Regions from separate parts of the Homo sapiens genome. Here regions 1, 2, 3 and 4 are each reported to be linked to region 5. Evidence: microRNA targets listed by miRTarBase, many of them from high-throughput screens and not tested one by one. Region 5 holds a microRNA gene; each other region holds the end of a gene's coding sequence.

The links. Region 5 holds the annotated microRNA hsa-miR-365b-5p (AGGGACUUUCAGGGGCAGCUGU, at 1,389-1,410, opposite strand). A microRNA usually pairs through its seed, bases 2 to 8, with sites in the 3' UTR of a target mRNA and lowers its output. Matches are read on the target gene's strand: a 7mer-m8 pairs with bases 2 to 8, a 7mer-A1 pairs with bases 2 to 7 and ends in A, and an 8mer does both.
Region 1: miRTarBase lists KLHL21 as a target of hsa-miR-365b-5p. Seed matches in the 3' UTR shown: 7mer-A1 at 1,978-1,984, 8mer at 2,127-2,134 and 7mer-m8 at 2,407-2,413.
Region 2: the mRNA of DARS2 is a reported target of hsa-miR-365b-5p. The part of its 3' UTR that is shown has no 7-base or 8-base seed match.
Region 3: miRTarBase lists TMEM117 as a target of hsa-miR-365b-5p. Seed matches in the 3' UTR shown: 8mer at 3,153-3,160.
Region 4: the mRNA of MRTO4 is a reported target of hsa-miR-365b-5p. Seed matches in the 3' UTR shown: 7mer-A1 at 3,342-3,348.

The regions. Positions count from the first base shown.
Region 1 is chr1:6,590,143-6,594,550 of GRCh38, reverse strand. KLHL21 (kelch like family member 21) reads left to right here. Exons shown (of 4, transcript NM_014851.4): 4 at 893-3,827. The coding sequence ends at 1,186. Among named protein-coding and RNA genes, the nearest start is that of KLHL21, 11 kb to the left of the region's middle.
Region 2 is chr1:173,857,395-173,861,869 of GRCh38, reverse strand. It overlaps DARS2 (aspartyl-tRNA synthetase 2, mitochondrial), which reads right to left. Exons shown (of 17, transcript NM_018122.5): 17 at 3,324-4,352. The coding sequence ends at 4,165. Among named protein-coding and RNA genes, the nearest start is that of GAS5-AS1, 3.6 kb to the left of the region's middle. RefSeq lists enhancers at 1-239, 240-956 and a silencer at 319-469.
Region 3 is chr12:44,388,136-44,392,627 of GRCh38, reverse strand. It overlaps TMEM117 (transmembrane protein 117), which reads right to left. Exons shown (of 8, transcript NM_032256.3): 8 at 2,870-4,492. The coding sequence ends at 3,956. Among named protein-coding and RNA genes, the nearest start is that of NELL2, 490 kb to the left of the region's middle.
Region 4 is chr1:19,258,492-19,262,491 of GRCh38, reverse strand. MRTO4 (MRT4 homolog, ribosome maturation factor) reads right to left here. Exons shown (of 8, transcript NM_016183.4): 7 at 3,939-4,000; 8 at 2,364-3,811. The coding sequence ends at 3,662. Among named protein-coding and RNA genes, the nearest start is that of MRTO4, 8.7 kb to the right of the region's middle.
Region 5 is chr17:31,572,357-31,576,848 of GRCh38, reverse strand. It overlaps MIR365B (microRNA 365b), which reads right to left and starts at 1,438; the gene lies at 1,328-1,438. MIR365BHG (MIR365B and MIR4725 host gene) reads right to left here. Exons shown (of 3, transcript NR_186556.1): 3 at 1,190-1,338. It overlaps MIR4725 (microRNA 4725), which reads right to left and starts at 1,580; the gene lies at 1,491-1,580. RefSeq lists an enhancer at 2,864-3,483.

The DNA of each region.
Region 1 (4,408 bases), not on the chromosome of region 5:
TTGTGTATTTTTAGTAGAGACGGGATTTCACTGTGTTAGCCAGGATGGTCTGGATCTCCTGACCTTGTGATCTGCCTGGCTCAGCCTCCCAAAGTGCTGGGATTACAGGCATGAGCCACCATGCCCAGCCCACTGTGGGAATACTTGTGTTGAGCACTTGCTGTGTGTTCTGAATAGGACAACCAGGGTCCACCCCTTCTCTCTGGGCTTGTTGAGAAGAGGGGTGCCCAGCCTGACAGTGATGGGACAGGGAGGCTTCAGTGCCATTTGGCCATGTGAGCAGTGTTAGTCTGAGGTACACATCATATTGCCTACAGCCTTCTTTCCTGTGTGTCTGTTAACATTTCCAAACCTACACTCCGTGACATCCAGCCTCACAGCTTACATCACAGCTTAATGTCCTGGCATTTAAGAGACCCAGCGTTCTGTTTTCCCCGCAGTAAGCTGCACATAGTCATAGCGAATTTGGGAAAGATGGAAGGAATCATCCAGCCTCGCGGTTCAGAGCCCAGCTCTGCCACTGTCAGCCATGCAAGCCTCAGTTTTCCCATCTGTAACATGGGGAGAACAGCACTGCTCAGCCCAGAGGGCCACTGCAGAGATTCTGAGAGAGAACGTAGGAAGCGCTGCTCGGCACGACCTGCACACGGGGAGGCCTGGCGCTGCAGCGGGCACCCTCATCACCATAGGGAAGGCCCAGCTGCCTCCGGGGAGGCCCGTTCTCCTAGGCAGGGTGTTGGAAAGGGGTTGGCCTCTCTGCTGCTTTCTGGGAGAGCCAAGGCCACCCCTCTGGGGTACTGACAGGGCATGCCTTGTCTCCAGTGGTTCCCCAGGTGGGGCCCTGCCCTACCCTCTCCTCTGACCTCCACTCACTCATCCCTTTGGCCCACAGGTACATGTGGGGGGCAGCCTGGCCGTCCTTGGGGGGAAGCTGTACGTCTCTGGGGGATACGACAATACATTTGAACTCTCGGACGTGGTAGAGGCCTATGACCCAGAGACTCGCGCGTGGAGCGTGGTGGGGCGGCTCCCAGAACCCACCTTCTGGCATGGCAGTGTCAGCATCTTCCGCCAGTTCATGCCCCAGACCTTCTCGGGTGGGCGTGGCTTCGAGTTGGACAGTGGCAGCGATGACATGGACCCAGGCCGACCCCGGCCGCCGCGGGACCCCGATGAGCTGCACTAGCCCCAGTCTGGCCCGGCACGGGCCTCGGTGCAGGTAACTGGCACCTCTGCGGGGCAGTGCCCCACTCCTTTGTGCACAAGGACACGTTGGGCTCACAGGAGGAGCACAGGCTCTTGGGTGGCGAAGCCAGCCCAGGATCCATTACCTGGAAGGTTTCTGTACCTTGAGAGCCTGAATCAGAGGCCGTCGGGAACGCCCTCCCTGCAGTTGAGGAAGAGCCACTTTCCTGCCAGCACATGTTTCTGGGTCTTGGAGGTCACCCCCACCCCGCGGATCACAGCTCACCCACGCGGCGCACACCCCTCCTGCCGTTGTCATCTGCACCTACTTGTTCCCACCTTGGGAGAGGACGATGACTTGGGAGGGACGCGTGAAGGGAGAAGGGGTCCTCCCATGAGGCTGAGGATGGCCTGAACCTGGAGCAGCGGACCAGGCAGACGGGCTGAAGTGGGGTCCCAAATTCCATGTCCAGAGGTGTGGGGAGCCTGCCTCCCTAGCTCCTGGCCCCTGCCAGGGGCTTACATCAAAACACCTCAGAGGGCTGCCCTCCAGAGGCTGCACCCAGAACAGTGGGACATGAGCAGGGGTGTGGGCTTGGAGGGTGAAGAGGATGTGGTCCTATCAGATGCTGGGCCTCCTCAGCCATAGCCCCCTGCTCCTACCCCCTGACTGGCTCTTGCGTCCTCACCTCTCACCCTCTCCTTCCCGGGAGGCCCTGGGAGGTGATCATTGACACCCAGCCAAGCAGACAGCTGCGGGTGCCCAAGCCCTTGCTGGGCCTGCGCGTGAGGAGTCCCACTGCTTCTAAAGGAAGTCCTGGGCAGGAGGTGGCTTTGGTGGTTGGTTCCAAAGTTGAAAATGCTTGCAGTTTGACCTTAGAAGAAGTGGGAAGAAGAAGGAGCTCTACAGGGTCAGCTTTGTTTGATTTGTCCAGTCTAAGAAGTCCCATTGCCAAAGCTTTCTGCAGGAGGGTGAATGCCGCAGCTTGGCAGCCCCTGGGTTTCTCTTGGAAATGGTCAGTTTCCCCTCAAAGTACCCAAAGTAGCCTTGGCTTGAGTTTTTGTCCTTGCCTCCTTTTTAGAGAAGAGGGCATTTAGACTGCATTTTCCTGGTTAAAGAAGGTTAAAGCAAATGTTTATTGCCTTTTCTAGTGAACTAACTCGTAGAGATGTTCTCAGCAGGAAGACAGTCTTAGCACTGTCACTTAGCAGATTGCACTTAAGTCCCTTGTGCTGGCCAGATGGCGTGGCTGGTTGCCTTAATATGTCCCAGGACCCCTGACAGGGCTGCCTGGCCTCTCCCTCGTGCTCCTCAAGAGCCCAGTCCATACACTGTGGATGTCATTGCTGTCGGGTTAGGAAGTCTTGTCCTAGAACGCCCTGGCTGGTATGACCACAGTTCATGGCGGCTCTTCTCGCTTGGGTCATGGTCATCTTCCAGCACCTGCTGTGCTGGGAAGGCCGAGGATGGGGGCCCAGCACTGTCCAGGCCTGCTGGGGCCTGGCTGGGAGTCCTGTGGGCAGCATGGAACATGCAGCTGGGCTTCCTGTGACCAGGCACCCTCTGGCACTGTTGCTTGCCCTGTGCCCTGGACCTTTTCCTGCCCTTCTCCTTCCTCTGCTCCCTTGGGGCTACCCCTTGGCCCCTCCTGGTCTGTGCAAACTCCCTCAGGGAGCCCCCCTGCCCTGTAGCTCTCGCTTAACTTCCTAGGGGCTGCTGAGCCCACCCAGAGGTTGTTGGAGTTCAGCGGGGCAGCTTGTCTCCCTTGTCAGCAGGGGCGTAAGGGCTGGGTTTGGCCATACAAGGTTGGCTACGCCCTCAATCCCTGACCGTTCCAGGCACTGAGCTGGGCACCCACGGAAGGACATGCTGTCCAGACTGTGATGACTGCCAGCACAGGGCATCTCGGGCTTGGCTGGTCTGCGAGGCCTTGCCCCTGTGGAACTCTGGGTTCCTGTTTTCTCAGTCTTTTTTGCGGCTTTGCTGTGGTTGGCAGCTGCCGTACTCCAGGCTTGTGTCGGCCACTCAGATGAGGGCTGTGGTGCGAGCCAGTGCAGGAGAGCTGCGCTTGGGATTGTGCCCTCTCCTGTGTCTGTCCTCCGGACCTACCCAGGTCTCCACCATCAGGACCCTGTCTTTGGGTTTAGAAGACCAAGTATGGGGAAAACCAGGCACCAGCCTCTGCAGCAATGGGTCCCTCTAGCCTGTGGACACCAGCTGGGGGATCCAGGGTCAGGCCCCCTCCTCTCCCCAGTTTCCCTCTGCTGTGGGTTCTGGGCTGTCATGTCTCCACCACTTAAGGATGTCTTTACACTGACTTCAGGATAGATGCTGGGATGCCTGGGCATGGCCACATGTTACATGTACAGAACTTTGTCTACAGCACAAATTAAGTTATATAAACACAGTGACTGGTATTTAATGCTGATCTACTATAAGGTATTCTATATTTATATGACTTCAGAGACGCGTATGTAATAAAGGACGCCCTCCCTCCAGTGTCCACATCCAGTTCACCCCAGAGGGTCGGGCAGGTTGACATATTTATTTTTGTCTATTCTGTAGGCTTCCATGTCCAGAATCCTGCTTAAGGTTTTAGGGTACCTTCAGTACTTTTTGCAATAAAAGTATTTCCTATCCATTTGGAGTCATTGCCTTTGTCCTCCTGCTACTGTCTTCTGGGACTCTTGGGCTGAGGACAGATGTCAGGGGAACAGGCAGCATGGAGCCCAGGGTTCACACTGAGGGTCTTAAACAGCCTTCCAGGCCCTTTCTCATCTCAGATTGTAGCAAGTGATGAAGCGTTGGAAAAGACATGCCCCAGAGGCTGGGTGTGGTGGCTCACACCTGCAATCCCAGTGCTTTGGGAGGCTGAAGAGGGAGGATCACTTGAGCCCAGGGGTTCAAGACCACCCTGAGCAATACGGGAAGACCTTGTCTCCATTTAAAGAGAGAGGCCTGAGAAGTAAATGCTGTGGAACAGATGATGCCCAGGAAACCTGCCTGCTCCAAAGCTGGTCTTTGCCTGTTGGTCCTCTGCCCGGGCCCGGCTCCCACAGCCCTTCTTGAGATTGCGGTACATACAGGTGGTGATGAGACTCCCATCTGCGATGAGATGGCCCTTGGACCTGGGGAGGTGGAGCCCTTCAAATACAGTCCCAAACCAGGCTGTGAATCCACACAAGCCGTCTGGCTCAAGATGTTTTTCCTATCTGCAGAGTC
Region 2 (4,475 bases), not on the chromosome of region 5:
CAGTGAACCAAGATCGTGCCACCTCACTCCAGCCTGGGCCTCCTAGGCTCAAGTGATTGTTGTGCCTCAACTACCTGAGTAGCTGGGATGACAGGTGTGTGCCACCACTCCCAGCTAATTTTTTTTTCTGTATTTTTAGTAGAGATGGAGTTTCACCATGTCAGCCAGGCTAGTCTTGAACTCCTGGCCTCAAGTGATCCAACTGCCCTGCCCTCCCAAAGTGCTGGGATTACAGGTGTGAGCCACTGCATCCAGCCAAGTTCTATTCTTTTTTTTTTTTTTTTTGAGACGGAGTTTCGCTCGTGTTGCCCAGGCTGGAATGTAGCGGCGCAATCTTGGCTCACTGCAACCTCCACCTCCCAGGTTCAAGCGATTCTCCTGCCTCAGCCTTCCAAGTAGCTGGGATTACAGGCGTGGGCCACCATGCCTGGCTATTTTTGTATTTTTAGTAGAGAGGGGGTTTCACCACGTTGGCCAGGCTGGTCTCGAACTCCTGACCTCGTGATCTGCCCACCTAGCCTCCCAAAGTGCTGGGATTACAGGCGTGAGCCACCGCATCCAGCTTCTTGTTCTCTCTTTTATATATAAGTGCCATTTGCTGAATCAGAAAACTTTTTGACAAGCATATTAAAAGATTTCAGTTGTATGTAGTAGCTCATGCCTGTAATCCCAACACTTTGGGAAACCAAGGTGGGGGGATTGCTTGAGTCCAGGAGTTCAAGACCGGCCTGGGCAACATAGTGAGACCCTGTGTCTACAATTAAAAAAAAAAAGAAAAAAAAAGTGAGCCGGGCATGATGGTGCATGCCTGTAGTCCCAACCACTCATGAGACTGAGGTGGGACGATCGCTTGAGCCCAGGAGGTTGAGGATGCAGTGAGCTGTGTCACACCACTGGATTCCAGCCTGGGTGACAGGGTGAGATGTTGTCTCAAATAAAATATTAAAAATTGGATCACCTTATTCAGCATTCTGTTGTTTAGCAGTTTTGGAATTTTAGTTGTTAGTAAATCTTGACCTTGAGTACACGTTATTTTGATATTCTGTGTGACAAAATGGGAAGTATGCATGAAGCACATCTGCCATAAAGTATGGATGTCTAGATTTTTTTTTCCCTAGAAAAAGTAGTTACAATTGTTTGAGATACAAGCTGAACTAGCTGCTTGTTTTCACAGAACATTTTTAGTTTGAAAAAACCTGACAAATTGATTATTCATATTTTAGGGGTAATTTTGGCAGAGATTTGCTCAAAAAAGAACAAGTCAGCTTGGAAAAAACTGATGGCATTTGTTGCCAATGATAAAACTCAAGCTTCCAAATGAAACCTAAAATTTTGGAAGGCTTGTATACACTTCTGTGCCCTTATAGCTTCCTCAGACTTAGACTTTTGTAATGGGATTGGTGGTAATATTAATTAATGGTATTTTGTTTTAGATATTGTATATCAAAATGTGTCAACATTTGGAAGATTTGCATAACTCAGTGAACCAATATTTTCCAAATGATCAATCACTGGACTGGTGTTACAAATATCACACATAGGTAAAAGTTCTATTTAAATACAAGGTACACCAATGGACTTTAGAAAAGCTCATCAATACGATTTCAGAATCCACATTGCAACTAGCCTTTAAGGAACTCTACTACTTGTCATATTTTGGTGTGGTATCAAAGAGAGTATCCATAATTATCAGACAAAGCTATTAAAATACTCCTCCCTTTTCCAACTTTATATATGAGTGGGGTCAGATTTTCTTCACAGACTTCAACCAAAACAGCATATAACAACAGATAGGATACAGAAGCAGATATCAGAATCTAGTGTCTTCTATTAAGCCAGAAATAAAAAATATTTGCAGAAATATAAAACAATGTTACTCTTCTATTTTTTTTTTGAAAATAATTATTTTTAAAATAAAAACATGGCTGAGTGTGGTGGCTCACGCCTTTGTAATCCCAGAACTTTGGGAGGCTGAGGCAGGCGGATCACCTGAGGCCAGGAGCTTGAGACCAGCCTGGTCAACATGGCAAAACCTCGTCTCTACTAAAAATACAAAAATTAACCAGGTGTGGTGGAGGGCACCTGTGGTCCCAACTACTCAGGAGGCTGAGGCAGGAAAACTGCCTGAACCCGGGAGGTGGAGGATGAAGTGAGCCAAGATCGCACCATTGCACTCCAGCCTGGGCAACAGAGTGAGACTCTGTCTCAAAATAAAATAAAATAAAAACATGCTATTTGTGTTAACATGTAATGGGTTATTTTAAAATGAATTTAACATTTTAAACTAAATCATTAAATCAATTATTAATTAATTAAATAGGAGGCTGAGGCAGGAGAATCACTTGAACCCAGGAGGTGGAGGTTGCAGTGAGCCAAGATGGTGCCACTGCACTCTAACCTGGGCAAAAGAGCGAGACTCTGTCTCAAAAAAAAAAAAGGTATAAATCAAAAGAATTTCAAGGCAGAAGTGAAGACTGAGTAGAAGAAAACAATTTCAAAATCACTGATCAAGACCTTGTTCTCATTTTGTCTTTTTTTGAAATGGAGTCTTGTTCTGTTGCCAGGCTGGAGTGCAGTGGTGTAACCTCGGCTCACTGCAATCTCCACCTCCTGGGTTCAAGTGATTCTCCTGCCTCAGCCTCCTGAGTAGCTGGGACTACAGGTATGTGCCACCACACCCAGCTAATTTTTGTATTTTTAGTAGAGATGGGGTTTCACCATGTTGGCCAGGATGGTCTCAGTCTCTTGACCTTGTGATCTGTCTGCCTCAGCCTCCCAAAGTGCTGGGATTATAGGCGTGAGCCACTGTACCCGGCCTCATTTTATAATTATTAGTTTATTAAAACTTTTATGTGTATGATTAGAACTTAAAATCACAATGAGTTTTGGTGTTCACTTTTTCGCACATTTGAGGTTAATCTAAGGTTGATTAGAATTTTCAATTACTTATAATTGAGAGAAAATAGTGTTCAGTGATTAATAATATCTTTGTTGTCTTTTTTTTTTTGAGATGGAGTCTTGCTCTGTCACCCAGGCTGGAGTGTAATGGCACCATCTTGGCTCACTGCAACCTCCATCTCCCAGGTTCAAGCAAACCTCATGCCTCAGCCTCCCGAGTGGCTGCGATTACAGGCATGCGCCACCATGCCTGGCTAATTTTTGTGTTTTTAGTAGAGACGGTTTCACTATGTTGGCCAGGCTGGTGTTGAACTCCTGACCTCAAGTGATCCACCCACCTCAATCTCCCAAAGTGCTGGGATTACAGGTGTGAGCCACCACTCCCGGCCAATAATATCTTTAAAACTAAAAAAAAAAACAGAAAATTGATAAGTAAAATGACTTTTACTATTGATATCAGTTTTGTTTAATCTGAAACTATAAAATAGAGATATATCTACCTATTTATGGATGGATAATACCATCATCTCATATTTGTGGAATGCTTTATAGTTTTTCAAAGTACTTTTATTCACTTTATCTTCCATATATGTTATCTCCTCTGATTCCAGCAATAACAGCCCGGTGAGGTAGCCAGGGCAAGTATGTATTTTACACATTAGCAGGAAGGGAGGCTAAGCGAGGTTTATGTAACTTACTCAGGCTGAAACACTGAAGAAAAATTTGTGACTCTCATTTCAGTGATGTTTTCTGCATTATTAAAAAATATTATGCTACTCCTCACTATATTATGTTGATGGTTGAAATGTCATTATAAAGCTTAATTTATATGATTCTCTTGATGAGGATGATGAAGCAAATGCTCCATCAACTCACTAGTTTACAGGGGCAAGCATTTTCCTACATTTCACACATAATTTGATTACCTCTGTCCTAAGTGAATAATCTACTATCTGGGTATGAGAAACATGATTTGAAAACACTAAACCACTATATTATTTCAACAAAGAACCATCTTTCACACCTAAGTAAAAAGGAACTTCAAAAAAAGTCCTAACCAAAAAAAATCCAAATGATGCATGAAATCAAGTCAAAATTGGGTATCTTTTATCTGTTTCTTCGTTGTGGTGAAGAATGTTGCCTGGATTCCTTCCATCTAAAGACTTGATTGTTAGACCTGTGGCAGAACTCTAGATCTGACTTTAGCCTTGGGGAAGCAAAGAGGACAAAACCTAAAAGCTCAACTTTCTGCATGGTATGCATGATTCAATGAGCTCTTTCTGCTTTGGAGTCTGTTGGCTTGGAGACTCGGATATGATAGGGCTTCAGTTCCTCAGGAGGGACAGAATCTGGGGTATTGCTCATGAGGTCATGTCCCCGGAAGGACTTTGGGAAGGCTATGACATCTCTGATGCTTGGAGATCCAGTGACAAGGCATATCAGTCTGTCTAACCCTGTGAGTAAAATACAAAGATAACAGATGAGAAATGTAATCTAATGTTGGAAATAACTTAGTTTTTCTATAAAAGTTGTAGAAAACTTTTAAATAAGAATCTTTAACAAACTGTAGCCAACCA
Region 3 (4,492 bases), not on the chromosome of region 5:
GTTAATGGGTGCAGCACACCAACATGGCACATGTATACATATGTAACTAACCTGCACATTGTGCACATGTACCCTAAAACTTAAAGTATAATAATAATAAAAAAAAGCCAGCTAACCAGCAAAACAACTAACCAACCAACCAGCCTTTTATGTAATACCCTCAGTCAGCTATGTTGAACATAACTTTTGAGTCCTCTACACAACACATAAGAGTACTAGCCTAATGAGAATTTTATGGTAAAGTTCCTTTCATAGAGGCTATTCTCTCCCTGCAGTTTTAAAGCCTGTTTAAAGTAAAACTGCTGTTTTTATTTCTAAGATTTCATTGCTGAAACCTCCACTTGTTCTCCACCATCTGCCTAACCTTCTCTTTTCATTATAAATATCCACCTCTTTTTCTAGTTTCTTCAACAAGAGTGACTTGTGAGTTATAAATACTACATCTAAACTTCCCTAGTTGTTCAAATAAGACAGTTCTAGGCCAGTCTAAATGGAAGCAACCCAAACGTTTCTGAGCTTGACTCTGTTACCTATATTTATACTCACTAATTACAACTCTATGCACACAAACATGTTTAAACGTCTAAATGGGGATAAATGAGGAAAGTGCCAGTTTATCTGCTGCAGAATTAATTGAGTTGCTCTTGCTGTCTCAAGGGTACGGGCTGGCTAATAGGTCAGAGTTGGGTTCTGAGGGACAAAGCTCGAAGAAATCAGGCCAGATAGAGTAGTGAGCCAAGTCAGTCTCAGAGGGAAAAACCAATATAAGCATAATACCCTACTTGTAGCTGCCTAAGCATGAGTTGAAATTTAAAATAAGGGTTAGTTCAGAGTGAAGGCAGATGAGAAACAATGGCAGGGTACTGAGGTCTTAGCTGAATGTCAGATAATCCAGTTGGCCTCCTGAATTATCAGTTATAGAGACATTTAGGATTTATTAGCATTGTCTTTCTCATATTTCATATTGGGCTGTGTTGGTGACCCATGGGGAAGCCAAATAATGTGATAAAATTGCTTATGGAGCCCAGTGGTGAGCTACCATGTATTGACTCCCTCCTTCAAATCTGAATGCCTGTGTTGGACTTCTTTCCACTGTACTGTCAGCCAGTGGTGCAGTGTTTTTGGACATTACTTGTGTGAAATCTGATACTACAAAAATAAAAAAAATTTGTACCTGGTTGACTCTTAGGGCAGATGGAGAAGAAATAATTCTTAACATTTTAAACAGAATTTGCTGGTGATCTCAGCTATGCTAAAAGATAAGGTAACATAAGTAGCTACCATGGGGAGAAAATAGGGTAACTAATTATGATTATACAATACAAATAGACATGTGGTGATGAGATTTATGTCTAAGTGTATATTATCAGGCACAAATTCATAGTGTTTATTTAATTTTCCATTTCAACTACTAATGAAGTACTTTATAAATGTAGGATACTAAAATTATGTCAAATTAGTTCAAATTCTGCACTATGTGGAAGAAAGTACTGTAATTACTGAACAGTAGAAATATAATTGTTTATAGTACTTAAGCATCACTGCAATTAAGACATCACATTTGTTAAGCTTTCTTTAGAATCTGTGCTTAGTAATTTTTTAAATCCTTTTTTTTAACCTCAATTTCTGAGATTGCTACACATCTCTTTTTAAAATGTCCTTAATAGTTTAAAAGTTTTGGTATTCAAAAATCTCTGTAGAGTCTCAGTCTATTGGTATGACTCAGGATTCAAGACTGAATGTGAATGGATTTAATTTTTAGTTTATTTCATTTTAGTATCTTTACTTGGTATAAATGCAATACCCAAAAGAGGCAGCAAAAGAAGAAAGTAGATCCATATGTAGGTAAGAAAAGGTCACTATCAGTATATACAATTCAACAGTTGGAAGCCTTAGAAGGCTGAAGTCTTGTTTGACTATTAAAATGTCCTTGGAAATTGTTCCATTTGTTACTAAATTTATGAAAATTTAAATATATATTTTCATTTTTTTAATAGTTTTTCTAGCTAATCCCTAGAAACACATAAACATGTTGTTCTAAGTTTGTTATTTTTTTTCTGTCTTACTTCTGCTAATTAGATTTTCTCATTAAAACATTTTCCATTAATACCCATGTAAAAATTCTCAAATAATATTTTTATAAGTCATGCATATTGATAATAAACGTCTACTTTCTAAATCAACTTCTTTCGTCATTCTATAAGACAATGACTTTCAGAATAAATAAAAATGTGGTACTAGGTGTTATTATTTACATGTCCCAGAGCTAAAAGTTGAATGTTCTAGGCTGCCAAAATTTAGTAATAGCTAGTGTTGCCACCTATCAGACATACATGGTAAGTTCCTTTAGATAGTATGGGCAATGGGTTACTATAGTGAGCTTGATCTCTGCATTTGTGTGTGTGTGTGTGTGTGTGTGTGTGTGTGTCAGATATGTTTATGATTCTAAGTAGCACCATGCATGGCTATTAAAGGTAAAAGTAACAGCAGGGGCATGGTTCCAAATGCTTAGTAAAGATGTTTATTAAAGCTGGCTCTCAAGTGACAGATAAATGCATAGTTCTATTATGCATGCTAAATTCAGTATGCTGCAAGCTTAAAAGTAGATAGATCAAAACAAGAGAGATTTAAAAAATCATAAAGAAAAAATGCAGCTATGTCAGTGTGTGACAGGAAAATAATTTTTCCTTAAAAGTGATCTCCCTCACCCCCTCAAGAAACGTAACCACAATTTATGGAACAAAATTGAAAGCAAGTTGGCAGTGTGCCTTCTCTTAACTTGCCTGGCATCAAGCTATAAAAACCCCATGTAAATGGACTTTTCTTAAGCCAAGATACAATTAAACAAAAAACTACATCACATAATCACTGCTGTATAATTCTTATTTATTAATGTGCAATATTTAGTTCTTAAAAAACAAAAACAAAAAACACATACGCAAAACAAGACATTAAACAAATTCTTTCATGCACGGCTTCTCTACCTGACAAGGTTCCGCTGCATGATTTTTTGAGGAGTTCCCTTGCTCAGGGTTGGCATATGTTTTTCAATTTTCACTATCCAGAGCCATATTTGCAGAAAGATATACGAATATTGTAAATGGTGGGATGTGCTGCTCTCATATGATGAAAACTTCAGTTCCTTGGTTGTCTGGGACTTTGTGTAAATGCCAATAAATTTGAGAGTTCGCCCAACTGTGTCTCTTAACCTTTGTTCCCAAAGGTGAAGGGCAGGATTTTTAATCAAGTAGCAATTTATCTTTAATTAGGAAAACATAATTAGGTATCATCACCTCATTTCAATTACTGGTGGGAGAAAGTCACATTTCACGAGTAGTGACCCATGTTGGGTTATGGATCTCCTATTACTGAATTTTGCATCTGTATTTATATTTGGCAGACAGCCAATAAAAATTAAAAGGTGATCACCATGTTTCTCTGCAGTCCAGTTGTCAAAGTCACCAACTCTGCTGCTGAATAAGAAACCAAGAGATACTTCCTGAGTCACATTTAGCTATTTCTGTTTTCTGCTCAGACATCAAGTGTAGATCAAAATAGTTGTATACAAAACGCCCATGTGAAATAGGTTAGGTAACTGTTCCACACTTCATTTCTGGTACAGTTAAAAACAGTTTAATGTCTCAAGGCACCACTATGGTTGAACATCAGATACATGGGTCATCAGCTAATCTTCCACTATGCTGTAAAGTCAGTAATAGCTTGTGCAATTGTGAAAAGCAATCTCTAGAGGACTGTTGAGTATACAGTAGGCACGTGTATTATAATACAAATAGAAAACAATGAATCCTAGAAAAAGCATGTTGAGCACCGTTGTGGCATTGTTCATATTTTTACCTAACACTACGTAAACCTTACATATACAAAAGGAAAGACTAAATTTTTAAAGTTACACTCAAGGTTGCTTTTTGTGTTATCTCCAAGTCTATCTCCGAGTCTAGTTCGTAGGTGTACTTTTAGAAGTCGTTGGGTCTTGATCAGCTTCTGTTGCACTAGTAGATTCGTTCAACTGTGAGCTCAAGTTTTCCGAGGTTAGGTGGGAAGACTTGTAGACGATCTCATTGAAGTCAGACCTGATGCAAACCAAAGAAGGGTCATTCAAGGGGTCTTCTACTGAAGCCTGGGTGTTTTCTCGAGTGATTCCCATGTCTTTGCTATGTTCTGATGGAGATTTTCTTTTCATGCGAGTGTAAGTTTTGTCTTGATTCTCCATGCGTGGCTCATTTTTCAAAAATCGTCCAAAGAACCAAATAAAGAATCCAAACCACACAAAGGCTATCAGGCTTGGAACAAAGGCCAGACACTTGACATCAAGACTGGCTCCTATGAACCTGCTGTGTAAGAACATGTCTCCCTCAACATATGTTTTATTAGTCCGAGGGTTAGTGTGATTGGACCTCCATTCCCAGGATAGCTTGGTTCTGTTCAAATCTTTTAAACTTTCTGAGTCTTTCACTGTATATATCTTCTGCCC
Region 4 (4,000 bases), not on the chromosome of region 5:
CCCTCTAGCCACCCAAGAACACGGATGAGGGGCCCAGAAACATGCATGCATTCTGATGCTCAAAAATGTAAGATGTCTACTTAGAAGCCATTAGCCCCTCAGTGCTTCAGGGACCTGGGTGCAGGCAACCGCCCTGAGATGACCCCTAGTACTGACCCCCGTGCAATACCCTCCCCCAACCCAGCTTCTGGAACAAGCACCACTTCAAGGCCATGGCCCTGGTGGAGCAGGTCCTGCAGATTGTGTATATAGCACCAGTGCCCCTGGCATGGCCTTGACTGTCCTGCGATGGACCACTCGCAAGCTGCAGGTAACCCAGCTGTCTCTAGATGCTCAGCTGCTTCTCTCAAATTCTGTGGGGGTGGGGAGACTGGGGAAGCTGCGAGGGCTATGCAGTCATTTGGTCACTTTGACCAAGAGGAGTTAAGTCCTTTTCTTCCTATGAAGGCTCTCCATGGCCCAGTTCTTTTGGGTGGGGTAAACCTGTTCTTACACAAATTACTTAAGCGGCCAGGTAACCAACACTAGTTATTGCGATGGCCATGTTAAGTATGGTCATCTCAGTTTTACATGAGGCAACTGGCTCAGAGGCAATTTCACTTGTGTAGGGTCCCACAGCTACACATGGTAGGGAACGAACGTGGGTTTGACTGAAACTAATGTTTTTCTTTTTGGGGGGACAAGGTCTTCCTCTTGTCACCCAGGCTGGAGTGCAGTGGCTTGATCATGGTTCACTGCAGCCTTGACCTCCAGGGCTCAGGCAATGCTCCGCTTCAGTCTCCCATGTAGCTGGGACCACAGGCATACACCACCATGTGACTAACTTCTGTATTTTTTGTAGAGACAGGGGTCTCACTACATTGCCTGGGCTGATCTTTTTTTTTTTTTTGAGACAGAGTCTAGCTCTGTCACCCAGGCTGAGTGTAGTGCTGTGATCTCGGCTCACTGCAAGCTCCGCCTCCCAGGTTCAAGCCATTCTCCTGCCTCAGCCTCCCGAGTAGCTGGGACTACAGGCGCCCGTCACCATGCCCAGCTAATTTTTTGTATTTTTAGTAGAGACGGGGTTTCACCGTGTTAGCCAGGATGGTCTCCATCTCCTGACCTCGTAATCCGCCTGCCTCGGCCTCCCAAAGGGCTGGGATTACAGGCATGAGCCACCGTGCCCGGCCTGAGCCTGGGCTGATCTTGAGTCTTTGGGCTCAAGCAATCCGCCCACCTCAGCATTCCAAATTGCTAGGATTACAGGTGCAAGCCACTGCATCTGGTCTGAAACCTACATTTTTAACCATTAGCTTTTCCTGGCTCCTTGGCTGCCCACCCTGGAGACAGCCCAACCCTGTGTGTAGTGGCAGGGTTTCCCTCTCCCTGCTGTCCCTAACCCCCTTCTCCAGCTTGGGTATTATATGGTTATGGCTTCCCTTTAGTGAGCACGTTACGTGCCTGGTCTGCAGGCAAAGTGCTTCACACAATTTCTAATTCAGACAAGCGGCCTGAAGTCTGAAGCTGAAAGGCTGGGTGACTGACCTGGGTTTACCCAGCTGCTGAGCAGCAGATGAGTGGCTCTGAAGTCAGCTGTCTAAAGCTGAGACAGCGTGGAGGCAGGGCTTTAAAGCCCAACGGTCATGGCTGTTTGCAAGCAGTAATGCAAGGCATACGTGAATAACCAGAGCCCAGTTAGCGGCGGGGCCATGGCTGGGAGGGGCATGATTAGTCACTGTGCAGCAGAAATGTGTTGAAGTCTAGCTGTCTCCCTTACAGGGCATGCATAGGGACGTGGTCATCCTGGATGGAGCAATTGGAGAAACTGGCAGCAGCAAAGGGACCCTGGACTCGGCTGTCACAGAGGCCGCCGACCAAGCCTGGCACCTGACCATCCCACTACCTCCTCCAGGTCTGGCTAGACCTGGCTCAGGTGCGGAGGGCACCACCTGCCACCCTTCATTCTCTCCCCCTGGCCAGTTTTGGCCTTAAATGGTTGTAGGCTGCTTTCCCCTCTCAGCCCGGTTTGCAGATCCTCCCCTACACTCGTGCAGTCTTCCCAGTCATCCTCACAAGGCGAGAGGGCCGGGCCTGAGCTCTCCTTCAGCACTTCCTGCTGAGGCTGGTGCTTGACCTGGCCTAGGCCTGGGTGAACATGGTGAATTCCTCTTCTGCCCGAAGCCTGCTTCCTGCTGTCCTTCCCAAGGGCGTGGTGAGAAGTGGGCGGGAGTAGGAAGTCTCCAAAGAACAGAGGCACTGAGAGGGTGTCAGAGGCACAATGCCGTTGTGAAGGTCACCCCACACCGTGGGACCCAGCCTGACCTCCCAACAGCAGGGCTGGAGGTGGCCCTCTTCCATGCATGGCAGAAAAAAGAGGGCCACTGTACACCCTGAAGCTGATTTACTCTCATTCAGAACTGCTTTCATGAAATACAAATAGAACAATGTGGGCTGGATGCGGTGGCTCACACCTATAATCCCAGCACTTTGGGAGGCCAAGGTGGGTAGATCGCTTGAGCTCAGGAGTTTGAGACCAGCCTGGGCAACATGGTGAAACCCCATCTCTCCTTAAAATTTTAAAACAGAAAAATCAAAAACAAACAAAAGCAAATAGAACAAGGTGGACAAAAATCTACCATTAGAGTCACCAAGGATAAAACCTCCCAGGATGCCGTGGACACTTTAGACGCTGGCTCTCAACTCTTGCAGTGATGTCACTCTCAGCCCAAGGCTGTCTTCCTGGCATCCATCAGATCCGCAGCCCTGGTTTGGAAGTGTGTGGAGGGCTAGGAAGGATACCTAATTTTCCTCAGCAAATCCCTCTGCCAAGGGGTACCCAGGACTGAAGAGAAACCCCAGCTCTGGTGTGGAGCTGTGCTGTCATGGCAGTGCCAAGGCAGCCAGTGGAAGTTGGCTGACAAGGCAAACTGAGGCAATCCACGCAGAATTCAATGGCCACCCAGGCTGGAGTGCAGTGGCATGATCATGGCTCACTGAGCCTCCAACTCTCAGGCTTAAGCAATTCTCCCACCTCAGCCTCCCAAGCAGTGGGGACCACAGGCAAGTGGCACCACGACTAATTTTTTTTTATTTTTTGTAGAGACGGGATCTTGCTGAATTGCCCAGGCTGGTTTCAAACTTCTGGGCTCACCAAAGGCCTCTTTTCTAAGAAAGAGCCCTCTCCCTCCTCTCCCTCTTGCTGTCTCCAGGAGAGACATCCTGCAAGGTTGTATTCTTTTTTTTTTTTTGGGACAGAGTTTTACTCTGTTGCCCAGGCTGGAGAGCAGTGGTCCAATCTCAACTCACGGCAACCTCCACCTCCCGGGTTCAAGTGATTCTCCTGCCTCAGCCTCCTGAGTAGCTGGGACTACAGGCACATGCCACTATGCCCAACTAGTTTTTTTTTCTATTTTTAGTAGAGACGGGGTTTCACCGTGTTAGCCAGGATGGTCTTAATCTCCCGACCTTATGATCTGCCCACCTCGGCTTCCCAAAGTGCTGGGATTCCAGGCGTGAGCCACCGCGCCCGGCCCACAGTTTTATTCTTTACAGGAGGTCAGTGCCCATCATGTTCCCTGTCTACAGACAAATAAAAAGCTGCTCTCTCCAGAGGGGCGGCAGCAGTCCTGATGGTCCAGTGAGACCCAGAAGCTTCCAGGAGACCTTCAGTCCCGAGTCCCTTTCAGTCATCATCTTCTGAGTCTGACTCTTCTGTGGACTCAGATGCGCTCTCTGGCAAGTCGTCTCCCATCTGCTGGAACCTTCCCGACTGTGAATCCCACATGTATTTGATGGTCACCTTGAATTCAGCCATCTCATACCCAAAAAGCTTCTGCAAGAGACAAAGGGAACAAAGAATCAGGAGGAATGAAGGTATTCAAAGTGCAGGGGGGCATTTTCAGCAGGCAGAGGAAAGCCAGCAACCCCGCCCGCAACAGCCCGCAAGGCGCCAGACTCACCAGGACGCGAGCCTGCTCTGGGGTCAGCACATCGCCCTCCTTGCACACCTCGTAGTCAGACA
Region 5 (4,492 bases):
GCAAGACTCCATCTCAAAACAAATAAAAATAATAATAATAATTTAAAAAAAGGTATTTCTGCTTCTCGACAATCCCCCAGGACCTCCAAAAGCCTTGGCTGGTCAAAATAGAGTCATGTGTCACTTAACAACGGGGATCCATCCTGAGAAAGGCATTGTTAGGTGATTTTGTTATTGTGCCAACCTCACAGAGTGTGCTTACATAAACCTAGATGGTGAATAGCCTGCTGCACACCTAGGCTAGGTGGGGGAGCCCATTGCTCCTAGGCTACACATCTGTACAGCACGTTCCTATCCTGAATGCTGTAGACAATTAGAACACAATGGCAAGCGTTTGTGTACCTAACCAGAAAAGGCACAGTAAAAACAGTGTTATAATCTTATGAGACCACTGTCCTACATGCGGTCCCTCGTTGACCAAAACATCGTTAGGCAGTGCATGACTGTATCTGCAGGGTGGGGCTGGATAGGGCAGGGGTAGGGAGACCTGCTGAGAATGGAGGAGATCCATGAAGTGAAATAAGGATGGAGGACTTTCAGTCAAGGAAAAGCAAGCTCCAGGGTCACAGTAGAGGGGGAAAGACCCTCAATTCACTGTTCTATTTTCAAAATGGCTAGTTCACTGGGTCTCAGACAGACAGTGGATTCTGAGGCTCCTTCTATTTTATTTTATTTATTTTTTGAGACAAGGTCTCACTGTGTTGCCCAGGCTGGAGTGCAGTGGTGCAATCTTGGCTCACTGCAACCTGCAACTCCTGGGCTCAAGCAATTCTCATGCCTCAGCCTCCCGAGTAGCTGGGACTACAGGCACACACCACCACACCCGGCTAACTTTTGTATTTTTAGCAGAGATGGGGTTCTGCCATGTTGGCCAGGCTGCCTTCTATTTTAAAATACAATGCAAGTTCCTGCGCAGATAGATGCCTCCTCTACTCCTGCCTCAACTTCTCAGGAAAGGTTGGGGGGCATCTTGTCCAGCCCAACTCTGTTGCCTCTAACATCACTGACCCGGAAGATGACCTTCCTTGGGCACTGCACGTGCAGCTAGGCTCTTCCAGGCCTTCACTGCACACAAACCAGGGAGTTCCTGCACCCTCCTGGGCTCCAACCTGCACAGGAATATCTTGATGTCCAGCCCTCCCGACCCTCAGCCACTCCAATCCTCCACCAGAAGAGAAGATGCTAAAAATGCACGCAAACAAAATTGTTTTAATAATCAGCAAATCCCCATTCACTCTTATTTTGGACGTACATTCCAATCTGACCCCAGGAAGTCCCGGTCCTCCCAGAAGGGCCAGGTGGGTGAGAGGCAGGTTGCTGGCCGCTGCCCGATGCACACTGCAAGAACAATAAGGATTTTTAGGGGCATTATGACTGAGTCAGAAAACACAGCTGCCCCTGAAAGTCCCTCATTTTTCTTGCTGTCCTTGAACACTCTCCAGGTGAGGAAGCAGTCGTCTGCCACGCCCAGATGAGCCGAGGTGAAGCTGGTGTTCCCTCACCCGACACTGACGCCTTCCCCACAGCCCATGGAAAGCTCCCTGGTGGGTGGGAAGGCTGCAGGGTCTCCAGAGAGACACAATTTTCTCCGATGCCGGGCCCAGCTGCGGCCAGCCTCGCCGCCCTCCCAAGGCATACCCAGGAATGACCTGGGTTCCACCTAAAGCCAACTCAGAACCCAGCGCCTTCTGCCTGCAGGAAACTGCAGACCAGCATCCTGGTGGAATCCCAATGTGGAGAGCAGCCCCCAAAACTCGGGAACGTGGCAAGAACTATACTATAGTCTGTAGCCCCTGTGTTCACAGGAGGGGCGTGGACCATCTCAGAGAGACAATGATGGTCTCAGGCCTGGCGTGACACATGAACACAAGACAGCCAGCCTCCAACCTTCTTGTAACCAGGCCTGAGGCCAGGCCTGATTCAGGCAAAGAGAAGAAAACACCAGGAAGTGCCCAGAAGAGCAACCCAGGCCTGAAAACCCGGGAGAAGAGCTGCCCCGACTCTCTCCAGCCCATCTTAAAGAACGGCACACAGACAGGAGATTCCAACAGGAATGGGCACGGGAACTCCGGTTCCGCTTCTCTCCAGCAGTCGCGGCCTTGGTTACTCTGCCTGTAAAATGGGCCTGGAAGGAGCTAAGCTCCCACCACCCTCTCTCCCATTTCAAAGGGAAAGCCAAAGAGGAAATGAGACTTTCAGCTCTGTCACAGAAAGCAAAGGGGCTGGAAGAGGCTGCAACCTGTGAGAAACAGCACGCCCTGGGGTGCTGCTGAATGGATCTCAGGCCCGCCCACCAATTCTCGGCCATATCCCACCCTGCCCTTAGCAAAAGAGCAACAGCTTCACATTGGCCTGAGTGGGAAGGCAGGTCCTCCCAATACCCTTCTATGAAAACGGCCTACAATGGGCAACAAAGACAAGTGTGAAGACCTCTGGAATGTCCTAGGTGGTTTCTGGGTTCAAATCAACAAGCCCACAGGCTCTGCTGGGAAGCACAGGCTGAAAGAAACCAAGGTTGGGTGAAGGAGATGGTGAGACAGTGGCCAAAAAGAAGGGAAGAGACTGGTGGCCAATTTGTTTTTTGTATGGGAGGATAAAAAACAAGAGCTTCCAGAATCAGAGACTCGTAGAGGATTCTCCTTAATGGGACAATCCCTTCTGTCCCGAGGCCCAGGTGAGCCTCCAGGGCAGTAGAGGGTCAACCCCAGCGTCAGGGCATCAGGGCCCAGACCAGGAAGGCCCCTAGGGAATGAGGTCCTGCATGTGCCTCCCACCTGTGGAATGTCACCCAGCAACAGGAAACGTGTCTCCTGAGGCCAGGCCACTTTGCCCAAGGCCCCGGCACAGCTGGAATCTGTCCAGCCTGGCACTGCACCTGCTCTTTGGGGGCCCCACTGTCCATGCAGGAACCTGGCCTGTCAGGACACAGGTTGCCACCGCTGTGGTGAAAACACATCCCCACAAAAGACAGCCAGCTGCTGGCACCACTACCTGCTAACTTGCTGTATGACCTGACCCTGTGTAAATTACTCGGCTTCCCAGCCTCAGCTCTCTTATCTGTAATAGGAATAATAAGCCCACCTGGAAGGGCAATGTAAGGATCGAAAGAAAGCAAAGTGTGTAGCAGGCTCCTAACAAAAGTGGATCCCCTCAGACCCCAAGGGCAGGGGCTGGGCCATAGCGAATTCTTCCCCTCTGGGAAGGGGGCTGGGTCAGGGTGCCAGCCCGTGCCTCGCTGCACCCTGGGCACTGACACTGCATCTTCTCCCCAACACTCCACGCTCCTTCCAGTTCAGACTGTGAGGAAGTGTGCCTGCTATCCCGATTGCCAGCTCCAGCCTCAGCCCTCTCAAACTGACATTCTGGCACCTGTCATCCACCCGGAGCTTTCTGTCCTAACCAAGATCACAGACATATTCTCCACCAACAAAGCAGAACTGAAGCAGTCCCCCCACACTAGGTTCTGCATCATCTGAACCACTGAACAGCACACCTGCATCACTGTGCTGAGCTGCTCCCGCTGCCTGGCACACCTTACCCCACGTGGTGCCGTGCAATAAGCAGGCAAGACCTAGCTCACCACTCACTAGCCTCGGGCCAGCAACTTAACCCCGAGTGCTTTTGTCTGTTCCTGTGTGAGTCTGGGGTTACTACCTATTTCAGGGGTTGTCTGGAGGACTGAATGGGTTCATTCATGGAAAAGGCTTAGAACTGTGCCTGGCACAAAGCGTTCAATCAAGATTAGCTATTATTACCATTCCTGCTTTGTTCTTCAAGACTCAGCTCACCTCTTCTGGGTGACCTTCCTTGACCCCAGACTCTCCCTGGGTTACAGCCCCTTCCTTCTCCCCATTCCATCATCCCAAAGCTCATCACACTGTGCTTTACCTATTGGTCCACCCAACCAGAGCACAATCCTGGGGCCACCTGCCTCACAATCACACAAACTTATTAACAATGCTGATTGCACCCCCCTTCCCAGGTCTATCAAGGGGCCCTGGAATCTGCATTGTTAATAGGCTCCTGCTGTGATTCTCCCAAGTTTGAACCACTGCTCTGGCACCTGTCATCTACCTGAGCTTTCTGCCCTAACCCAGATCCCAGCCATATTCTCCACTAGCAAAGCAAAACCCAAGTCCCCACACCCATTGCTACAGGCAGGTGCTTGGCCCAGAAACAAAAGCGCCTGGTCCAAAATCAAGGAGGCAGGGTCAGGAGAGCTGCCCCTGAGAGTGGCTGGAGGAGCTCCTCACACCGTGCTGGGTATGTGACAGTGACCCACCTGGGCTTGGCTTTGACAGCAGAGCTAACCTATCACCAAACACACCAGCCACCCAGTCCAGTTCCATGCGCCTTCCCTGAGTGCTCACTCTGCATGGCCCTGGGCTGGGCACACGCTGACGACTGAGGTGCATCATGTGCCAGGTGGCAATGGGACCGGTCAGGGTGATGTCCCACCAAGACCAAAGGGATGAAGTCACGACCCAGCTCT